Regions from separate parts of the Homo sapiens genome. Here region 2 is linked to region 1. Evidence: fine-mapped expression QTL. Tissue or cell type: cerebellar hemisphere. Region 1 holds a variant in brackets; the other region holds the start of a gene. All regions are shown on one strand. Distances are from middle to middle.

Region 1 (5,200 bases):
AATTGTATTTGAAAGAGGGCCAGTACTTCACAGGTCTCAGAGATCATCGCTGGTATTTTTTTTTCCAAGAGTCACACATCTTGTTTCCTCCTGCCTAGTTGGATTTGATAGAAGAAGAAGATTGGAATGGAACTAAAAGGGTTTTGAACCACTCAGATATTCTACAGACAGGTTTAGAGGAAATTAGTAGCAGGGTCATGGATCAGCTATGCAAGATACTAGCATAGTTATTCATCTGAATAGGAGCAGTCGGCCACACAAGAGAGATGCTTATGAAAGAACCACACCAAAATCCAGCTAGATTCTATCTTGTATGAATGAGAGATATTTTTGGTCTGCAAACAAGCAGGCATTCCATACCTTGGCATTCTCTTTGACCCATTTGTGTGAGGTTGCCTTTCTCAGAGCATTTCCATAACACGGGAAAATTGACTTTTGTTTGTTTACCCAAACAATATTCTTAAAATGAACAACCCCTGTTCATCCACAAATGACCGTGGAATCTCGCTATCACTCTTTGCTACTGGTGACCTCTGCCAGTCCTCCCAGGCTGTAGAGCTGTATTTACACCTCACAGAGAAGCACTGGGGTGAAACTCTGCGTGGAGCTGTGCTGCTCAGAGATGCTCCTCTCCTCTCTTTCCACTTCTTTCTTCCACAGGGTAAGACTCATGCTGAGAGGCTGACGATATCCTACATCGTAAGCACATGGCAGGATGCTTTATGTCTCCACTCTGCTTACTGGAGCCCTCTCAGTTCTGTTCTGAGGCCAGTGTGCCCTGTGTTTATGACTCCATCCCTCTAAGGATCCTTCTTTAAACAGGCCAAACATCTAACGCTGCTACAATTTACCTAGGGTTTCTTGTTCCACCTCACCCAGACCCAAAGCACTGAATATTTCAGTTTGTACAAACTGCCTTTATTTTATGGTGGTTCAGCTTTTAATTTACATTTTAGAGTTTTATACGTATGTCCTTTATTGTACAGGACTCAGAAGACAGTCCCATCGAAAAACAACTCTTTACAGCACTATAAACAAATTACAAGCACATAAAGCTTGGAGTACATTCCTCTCTTAAGCTCTCCCCAGGCCTCCTCCCTAGGGAGCGCTCAGTGTGCTCCGGCTTGTTCTTGGGAACTCTGACTGCAGAATACGTGGATGTTGTAAATGCAGCAGAAAAGATCCCTTGCAGCCCTCCTACTGGACCGACCCCTGGGGCCAGGGTCATTGTCTTCAGAACTGCAGTAAGGAAATGAGTCCTGGGTAAAATAGCCTGAGGAATCCCAGCGCAGTGTTCTCAAACTGTTTCAGTCCTGGTCTAATGACTCATTTGGAAATTCTTAGAATCTTACTCATCTTCTCCATGCCCTCTTTCTCTGCTCCAAGCCAGCGGCTGAGGTTAAGTCAGAGGCTTGTATCCAAGTTACCCCGAGTGTTTGCCATTTGCATTTGTCTTCTGACTTAGCTCCCCTCTGCAAGTTTAAAATTCTTTTTCACAATGGGGAGCATAAGTCCCACCGTTACTGGATCTTTCTGAGGACAGACTGCATGTTATGAGAAAGAGCAGTGTTCTCCCCTTCCTTGCAAAATAACATCGTGCAGTGTTGGGGCCTTGAAGAGTCAGTGCCTCAAAGGCAGGGTGAGAAAGAGATGTCCAGTTTATGCCCCATGGAAAGCAGCGGTGCCTGCTGGAAGGACAAAGAAACAACATAGAAATAAACACCGTGAGAACCCTGTGGTGGCTGAGCACACGTCTTTGTGAGCATACGTGATACCTTCTGGTGATTCTGACCCTCTTGGCTGCTATCAGAGACAGGAGGTTCCATGTCAAAGTGGTGAGAGTGAAATCTGGATTGTTACTGTTACTTAACTAGGACTTAACTGGTTTCCCTAGGACAGAGAGCCCGAGGCAGAGGCAAAGCTTACATGCTAATACTGTATGCGAGGAGATAGCGGACATGCCATCCCAGGATGCAAGAGTGAAAGGAGACTGAAGACAAGGCAGGAAAAAAGGCAAAGCAAATGCAAGGTGACACATCACTGAGCTGCCCTTAGTTTCTCAAGAGCTTTTGGGCGGCTGTTGTGTCACATGGGAGTGAGGCCCTAATGGAACTACTGCATCTCGAATCTGCTGGCTCTGCCCTCTGTGTCCTCTCTGAGGGCCAGTGTCAATTCCCCCTCTCCTCCAGGCTCTCCTCCGTGAGCCCCCCAGACAGCCCTTGGGGCAACCAGCGCATCCGTGAGTTGAGGAGGGTGGAGAATTTCCAGGGTTCTGACGCCCCTGGCATGATGGTGGCCTGCCCAAGCCCCCAGGGGAGCTAGAGGCAACCCACAGCG[T/C]GAGGAGATGAGATGGCAGAGGCTGCGGCCATGGCTTCACAGCCATGGGAACAGAGCAAGTTATAGCTAGGCCCACTGCAGCCGGGAAGCTGGGCAGGAAGCTAAGGCCTGTGGGCGGGGCCAGCCAGGCCTGGGTGCAGGTAGTATGGGTCCCGCACACCCTGCTGGGGAGATGCAAGGGACTCTGGCTACAACCAGGTGCTGTAAATTATAAACAACACAAACTTAGAAAAGCATCATCTGTTGGAATTAGTGTCAAATGGGAAATGTTATAAAAGAAGCTGTAGAACTTCAGTAGGGACACAGACTTTCAGACCAGAGGAAATGGAAGGCTGCTAGAGACTTTCTCCACATTCAAAGAAAAGCAAACAAACAAAAAACTTCAAGTGGAAGAGGTGGGACTGGCCCAAGCAGCCCTACAAAAGAATCCAGAATCTTTTTTGTTCTCAAAGCAATGTGGGTTTTTTTTTTTTCTATTAAAGAAATTATGCCTTTGGGGATAGTCTGTATAGTCTTAGAGTAATTTAAATCATTTTTCTTTTGAGATTCTTTTCATATTTATGATTTTAATACTTTATGCTGATTAACTACATAGAGATTATAGGCTTTGCAAAAGGAATATCTCAGCCTGTCACAGTTACATTTGTATGAAACGACCTCACTGCAGGAATGTTAACAATTGTATTAGAGGTTCCGTTTCTAAGTTTAAATAGGAATAATCTACCTCAACCTATTCAGTTAGAACAAAAGCCACTTCCGCAAAGCAATAAGCATGTATCTTCTTCCAACCTAGTTGCATTTGATTAACGATTGCATGAGAACCTTTCTCATACTTAGCTTTTCACCTGGGGTTTTTGAAATGCTTAAGAAAAAAACTATTAAATACAAGCATTTTAAAGCTAATAGTTTCCCTGTTTCTAAAATGTGAAAAACACTAGAAGCTGAAATTCAGCAGTTTCAAAAACATATTTCAGGTTCAGTTTTCCCAGGACAGCTGCAATGCTTGCTGGAAAGTCAATGACATTGCAACTTGTAGGCAGTTCTGGCCTTTCATCTTTTTTTTTTCTAGGGACAAATAGTTGATAGGATCTGTTTGATGTAAAATTTAAAAATCCATATAAACTTGGCAATTTTCCGGAGCACATTTGATAGGAGCAAGTTTACTTAGATTTATGTAATTTTGTTTCTGGTGCGTATAAAGATTAGAACTGAATGTGAGGTCCTATGCAGAGGCAAGAGGTATAATGTGAATAATATAAAGTCTCTCTTCAAAACCCTTCACTCATAATTAAATATCCATAAGTGAAGGGCAGTAAGTAGATGTTCAAGTGCTGTGTGAACAGAAACACCATACAACTTTAGAATTCGAGGCAGCTTAGCTATCTTTGTGAACTGAGGACTCTGGAGTCAAGAGGTCATGGGTGACTCTCCCTAGATCACAGAGCCAGTTTTTAGCAAAAATGCACCTTTTGTTACACTCCAAGTTCTCGCATAATTTCTTTGTCTCTACACTTTTAAGTGTTAAAATTCAAAAGAACATTTTTCTATAAATAATGTGGACAAGAGGTATTTGATCCTTGGGTGTGACTGACATTATAGTTACACAGTGTAGTGTCAAGCTCTGGTGCCTCATGAGCTGGGTTTGAATAGAGACCCCGCCACTTTCTATTTGTGTGACCTTGGCAAATTATGAAACTTTCTGAGGCTCGGTGTGACACGGGGATAAAATTCATGCCCAATTCATAGGTTCATTGTGAAAAAGAAATGAGCGATTTCCCTAAAGCACTTGGTGGTGTGTACATTATAATCACTTAGTAAATATTGTTTGTTGTTATTTAAATTGCTTTTACTAAACTATTATGAAAGACTTTTCTGCTGTTTGTCCTTCTAATCACTATTGTCTTTGTCTGTGTCCCACCTGACCTCTCCTATAAACTGACCTTTTATCTGTCTACTCTGATGAGAGCAATGGCAGAGTAGCTGCTGCTTTGAGCAGAAAGTAAAGCCGTGTGGAAGGGTACAGTGAGACAGTGTGACAGGGAAAGCTTTCAGTTAGCCTCAGCAGGTCAGTATGATGCTCACACATTCACTTCCCAACTGCTTCTGTAAAACGCTCCATGATTCTTCTTTTTTAAGCAAATGAGAAATCGGTTCTTGATCTGAGTCCCAAGTAGACATCTGTAGCTCTTCACCTAAACCTTTTAATCAGCACCACACTGGAGCTCTGGGTCATCGTTTATTACATTCGTATTTGGGTTCCCCAGCAATATTATTATAAATAATAATATTTATTAAGTGAATATTCACTTATTTAATAATAAGTGATATTTAATAATAAATGAATATTTACATTCACTATTTTGGGAACAAGAAGAGCAGCAATAAGCTGGATTATCATGTCAACAGGCTTGATATTCTCCTTCACATCTGTAATAGACGGTTTATGGGACTTCTTCAGGGAAACAGGCCGGGTTGAGCCTCCTCAGACACTCCTCATCTTGGGAAAGTAAGTCTCCCACCTTCAAGGGAGGTTTTCAAAACTATGAGTGTTGGCTCCAGTCCCATCATGTTGGTTGCTGAGAGGAGATAAACTGGCTAAAGGTTTCCTAATACTTAGTCCCCAATAGCTGAACACTGCTGGTGCAAAAAAAAAAAAAAAAAAAAATCCTTTCAAAATTGGCAAAAATACAAACAACAAAATTTAAAATCTTTCCATCGTGATCACCTTTTTTGAACAGTGCGCAAATGAATTGTCACTGGAATTTTTACTTACGTAAGCACATTCTAATGTTCTGTTGACAAATTATTTTTCCATTGTAATCTAGATTCCTCAGGGGAAAAAATGTCATAAGTTCACCTGAAT
Region 2 (5,129 bases), 630 kb after region 1:
GGGTGCATAAGTATCTGTTTGAGACCCTGCTTTCACTTCCTTTTAGTGTATGTCCAGAAGGGAAATTGCTGGGTCATATAATTCTATGTTCAAGTTTTTCAGAACATGCCATACTATTTTCCACAGTGGCTGAGTATGCTACATTCTCACAAGCAATGCATAAGGGTTTCGATCTTTCCACATTCTTGCCAATCCTTATTTTCTATTTTTTTGACTAAAGCCATCGGTATCTCATTGTGTTTTTGACTTGCATTTCCCTAATTAGTGGTGTTGAGTATCTTTTCATGTGTTTATTGGCCATTGGTATATTTTCTTTGGAGAAATATCTACTCAAGTCCTTTGTAAGATAAACTTTTGACCACAGTTTGTTTATTTATTTAGAGACAGGGGCTTGCTCTGTCGCCCAGGCTGGAGTACAATGGCGTGATCTCAGCTTACTGCAACATTTCCCTCCTGGGTTCAAGCGATTCTTCTGCGTCAGCCTCCTGAGTAGCTGGGATTACAGATGTGCACCACCACACCTGGCTAATTTTTGTATTTTTAGTAGAGACGGAGTTTCACCATGTTGGCCAGGCTGGTCTGGAACTCCTGACCTCAGGTGATCCGCCCACCTCAGCCTCTCAAAGTGCGGAATTACAAACGTGAGCCACCGCGCCGGGCCAACCACAGTTTAACAACTATCCCTGGAAAGTGGTGCCAACACAGTTTTATTAAGCACTTTAAAAGAAAGTGAAATTCTTGCTTTTTTTTTTTTTGAGACACAGTCTTACTCTGTTGCCTAGGTTGGAGTGCAGTGGCACGATCTCGGCTCGCTGCAACCTCCACCTCCGGAGTTCAAGCGATTCTCCTGTCTCAGCCTTCCGAGTAGCTGGGACTACAGGCTCACGTCACCACGCCCAGCTAATTTTTGTATTTTTAGTAGAGACAGTGTTTCACCATATTAGTCAGGCTGGTCTTGAACTCCTCTCAGGGGGCCCCACCCGCCTCGGCCTCCCGAAGTGCTGGGATTACAGGGGTGAGCCACTGCGCCCAGCCAATGCTGTCTTTTAGGCAACAAAAAGAGAATTGATTATACTTTTGGTAATTAAGACCAACAAGTACAAAATGCATTGTGAAGGACGAAAATAGACAATCCTTACTGGAACTCCCCGGGACAGGCAGGGTAAGACCCATATTTCCTACCCTTCTTTGCACTTAGATGTGAACAATATTTATTAACTACTGGATTGTATACCATTGCTGCTATAACAAATTACTACAAATTCAGTAGTTAAAACAACACAGGTGTATTGTCTTACAGTGCTTAAGGTATTAAGTCTAAAATCAAAATTTGCAGGCTCTAGTTCCTTCCTGAGGTTTCAGGAGAGAATCCGTTTCCTCCTTTTGCAGCTTCTACCTGCACTCCTTGGCTCATTGCCTCTGACATCACTCCAACCTCTAGCTTCTGTGCTCACAGCTCCCACTACTGACTTTGAACTTCTTGTCTCCATCTTATAAGGACCTTTGTGATTCCATGGGGTTCACTGGATAATCCTGGTTAATCTTCCCATTTTGATCCTTAATCACATCAGCTAAATCCTGTCTGCCACATAAGGTGACATATTCACGTGTTGTGGGGACTAGGAGGTGCACATTTTTGGGGTGCCATCATCCTACCATACCTGAGAGTTCAACGAGAAGTTATTGTATTCAATATATTCTGCAGAGATCATTTTTACCTTAGATTGTTTTAACTACCCACCTCGTTTACCACTCGGCAAAGGTCTTTCCATTCTGAAACCAGCCTCTGGTCCACAGAACTAACTAGTGGTATGAACTGAAATTTGCTGATAGAAAATATCACAAACACACAGCCGCCGTTCTTTTTTATTCTTGGTTTGGTAGAGAATTACAAGATAATCAAGGCAGCTTTCCCTATTAACGCACGAGAACAACGGGGCCTACCCGCGCCGCCCTAGGCAGCCGGGAGCAGCAGTAACGCCTCTAGGGCGCCATGGCAACCACGCGGGCTGGACCGCCTTCTTCCGCGGCTCTTCTAGTGTGCGCGTCCCTGGCCCGGCCTCCACTCCGCCCGCGTGGAGCCCCGGCCTGGCCGCCTGCCCGCCGCGCTCTGTGACGCCCGCCGCGAGGGCCGCACGAGGCCCGGCGTGCGCCCCCGCCTCTCCCGAAGCGCCGGGCCCCACGCCGCCCCTCCTTTCCCTTTCCGCTCTCTCCGCCTCCGGAAGCGCGGGCGCGCGGCGCCGGGAGCCCGTTCAGGGCCGCGGGAGTGCGCCAGCGCCGCGCGTGGGGCTGTGGTGGCCGCGGCTCTCAGGTGAGGGGCGCGCGAGCGGCTCCTGGCTCCCTGCTCGCGGGGCGCCCGCCACGCTCCTTTCCGTTCGCATCCGTCTCCCCGCTCCGGAGCCCAGGCGGCGGCGAGTACTCGGGGTGGGTTTAACGAAGCCTGCGCGGACGGTGGGAGACCGCGCCCCCACGACAGGGGCGCCCGCGGCGGCGGGTCGCGGCGCCGTTCCACCCCGGTCCCCTGTGAGAATGGCGGGTCCCGCCCTCTCGCGCGTTCCGGGTGGCTTTGAGGGTCAGGATCAGCCCTAAATTGAGATTGGGCCGCGACCACATGCCGGGCCCTGACGACTTCTTCCTACTTGTAGGGACTCGAACCTAACCCACGAGGCCCGAGGGGTTATCTGCCTTCCGGGGACGGTAGGGGATGTAGACAAGAGCCTAGCGTTCCTGGAAACAGGTGTTTAATTTGGGCCGGGATTTTCATGTACCCAATTGGGCATCTTGTTGGAGGCCTACTGTGCTGTTTAACTACAGAAATGTATTGTCACAGTAACAAGATGACAGTTTAAAAAGTGCCCGGTGCTTTTCTGTGTATTTTCCTGATGTTTGGTGAAAGCATTAGTCTTGTTATTGCTGGTCTGTAGGACCTGGCAAGTGGGGCGTGCCCAGTGACTCTCAGGCAGCTTTGATAAAAACTTACCTGTCTCTTTTTTTTATTTTTATTTTTTGAGACAGGGTCTCGCTCTGTGGCCCAGGGTGGAGTGCAGTGGCACGATCATGTCTCACTGCAGCCTCCCAACTCCTGGGCTCAAGCGATCCTCCTGTCTTGGCCTCCCAAAGTCCGGGGATTACAGGCGTGAGCCATGCCCCTCCTGGCAAAACTCTGTCTTGATTGAGCACCAAAGGGTTGTTATGGTCTGATGAACTATCCTTTAATTTTATCCTTTCCTAGTCTGTTGTAAAGAGAATCTTAACTACTTTATTAAGTCATTTTTCTTATTCTCTGGTAAATTGAATCACTTACCTCGTAGTAAATGTTATCAAAAGAATTGCTCAGTGGATGGGATTGTTGGGTAAATTTTCCTGTAAATTAAGTCACATGAGTGTCGAAATCTTTACAGTAACTCTGTTGGATATTATTAACTAAAATTTAAACCTGAAAAGTCTCACAGGCACCGGACTATGCACCAGGGCGCATGAACTGTGACCACTTAGGGAGGCAGCTGGCTTCCAGCTCTTGGGGACTGCATGACCTTATCATGGAAATGCAGATAAAGGCATAGTTGTGGTTTGTGCTTCCGGAGGGGTGGGGGAAGATGGCAGGAAACTATCAAGGAAACTGGGTTGAAACCCGGTGATTTTTTTTGTTTGTTTGTTTTTTGAGATAGGATCTCACTCTGTTGCCTAGGCTGGAGTGCAGTGGCCTGATCTCGGCTCACTGCAGCCTCAGCTCCCAGGTTCCAGCGATTCTCCCACCTCAGCCTCCGGAGTAGCTGGGACTACAGGCGAGAGCTACAACGCCCGGCTAATTTTTGTATTTTTTGTAGAGGTGGGGTTTGGCCATGTTGGCCAGGCTGGTCTCAAGCTCCTGGGCTCAAGTGGTCTGCCTGCCTGGGCCTCCCAAAGTTACAGGCATGAGACTGTAACATGAGCCACCGCACATGAGCCTCCATGCCCAGCCACACACATACAAGGCGATTTTTCTACCCTCGTGGGTAGCAAAGAGCATGGCTCAATCTTAAATCTCCTAACTCCAAACTCCTTTGTGGGATAAACATTCTTTGAATGACTAAATTCATCAGGTTCTCCTTTGGGTACTGGGGTTATAAAGATGAGGAAGTGACGAGGAGCTCCCAGTCTGGCAAGGAGACAAGTGTAGGGGATGGGGGGAAAAACAAAAATCCTTTTTCCTTTAGCTGGGTCTGCAGCTGGGGCTGTAAGGCAGATTAACAGGAGAAAAGGCATACGTATTTTATGTTAATTTTTACAATGACACAGGGCTTTCCTAGAAAAGAAGTGGATAGGCCAGAAAGTTTCTATACGGTGTTTAAAAGATGATAAACTGTGGAGATACGACATGAAGAGATCATAAAACCAGGTGGAGGGTTAGACCTCTAGGGATTGAAACTATGGGACGGTAAATACAGGCATACCTTGGAGATATTTTGGTTGCTTGCAGACCACCACAATAAATTAAATCTTGGAATAAAGCGAGTCACATGAATTTTTTGGTTTCCCAGTGCATATAAAAGTTATGTTTACACTATACCGTGGTCTGTTAAGGGTACAATGGTATTATGCTTAAGAAATGTACATACGTTATCTAAAAAATAATTTATGGCTAAAAAATGCTGTCAATCATCTGAGCCTTCAGGGAGTTGTAATTTTTTTTTGCTGGTGGAGGGTCTTGCCTCACTGTTGATGGCGGCTGACTGATCAGGGTGCTGAGTGCTGAAGGTTGGGATGGCTGTGGCAATTTCTTAAAATAAGACAATGATTAACTTTGCTTTATTGATTGACTTCTTTTCACAAAAGATTTCTGTAGCTTGTGATGCTGCTTGACAGCATTTTATCCAGAGTAGAACTTTTTTTTTTTTTTTTTTGAGGCGGAGTCTTGCTCTGTCGCCTGGGCTGGAGTGCAGTGGTGTGATCTGGGCTCACTGCAACCTCCGCTTCCTGGGTTCAAGAGATTCTCCTGCCTCAGCCTCCCAAGTAGCTGGGATTACAGACATGGGCCACCACGCCCAGCTAATTTTTTTTTATTTGTAGTAGAGATGAGGTTTCACCATGTTGGTCAGACTGGTCTTCAACTTCTGACCTGAAGTGATCCACCCACCTCGGCCTCCCAA

The links. PIP is the estimated chance that this variant, and not a neighbour inherited with it, causes the effect.
Region 2: it holds the start of CFAP97, and the variant in region 1 is fine-mapped to the expression of CFAP97 in cerebellar hemisphere (GTEx, PIP 0.98).

What each region holds. Positions count from the first base shown.
Region 1 is chr4:185,835,455-185,840,654 of GRCh38, reverse strand. It overlaps a transcript of SORBS2 not described here. Among named protein-coding and RNA genes, the nearest start is that of SORBS2, 26 kb to the right of the region's middle. RefSeq lists enhancers at 812-1,483, 540-1,739. The variant T/C (reference allele first, on the strand shown) is at 2,338.
Region 2 is chr4:185,201,080-185,206,208 of GRCh38, reverse strand. CFAP97 (cilia and flagella associated protein 97) reads left to right here and starts at 2,209. Exons shown (of 5, transcript NM_020827.3): 1 at 2,209-2,311. It also overlaps a transcript of SNX25 not described here. RefSeq lists enhancers at 1,057-1,146, 1,257-1,366 and silencers at 2,126-2,297, 1,907-2,676.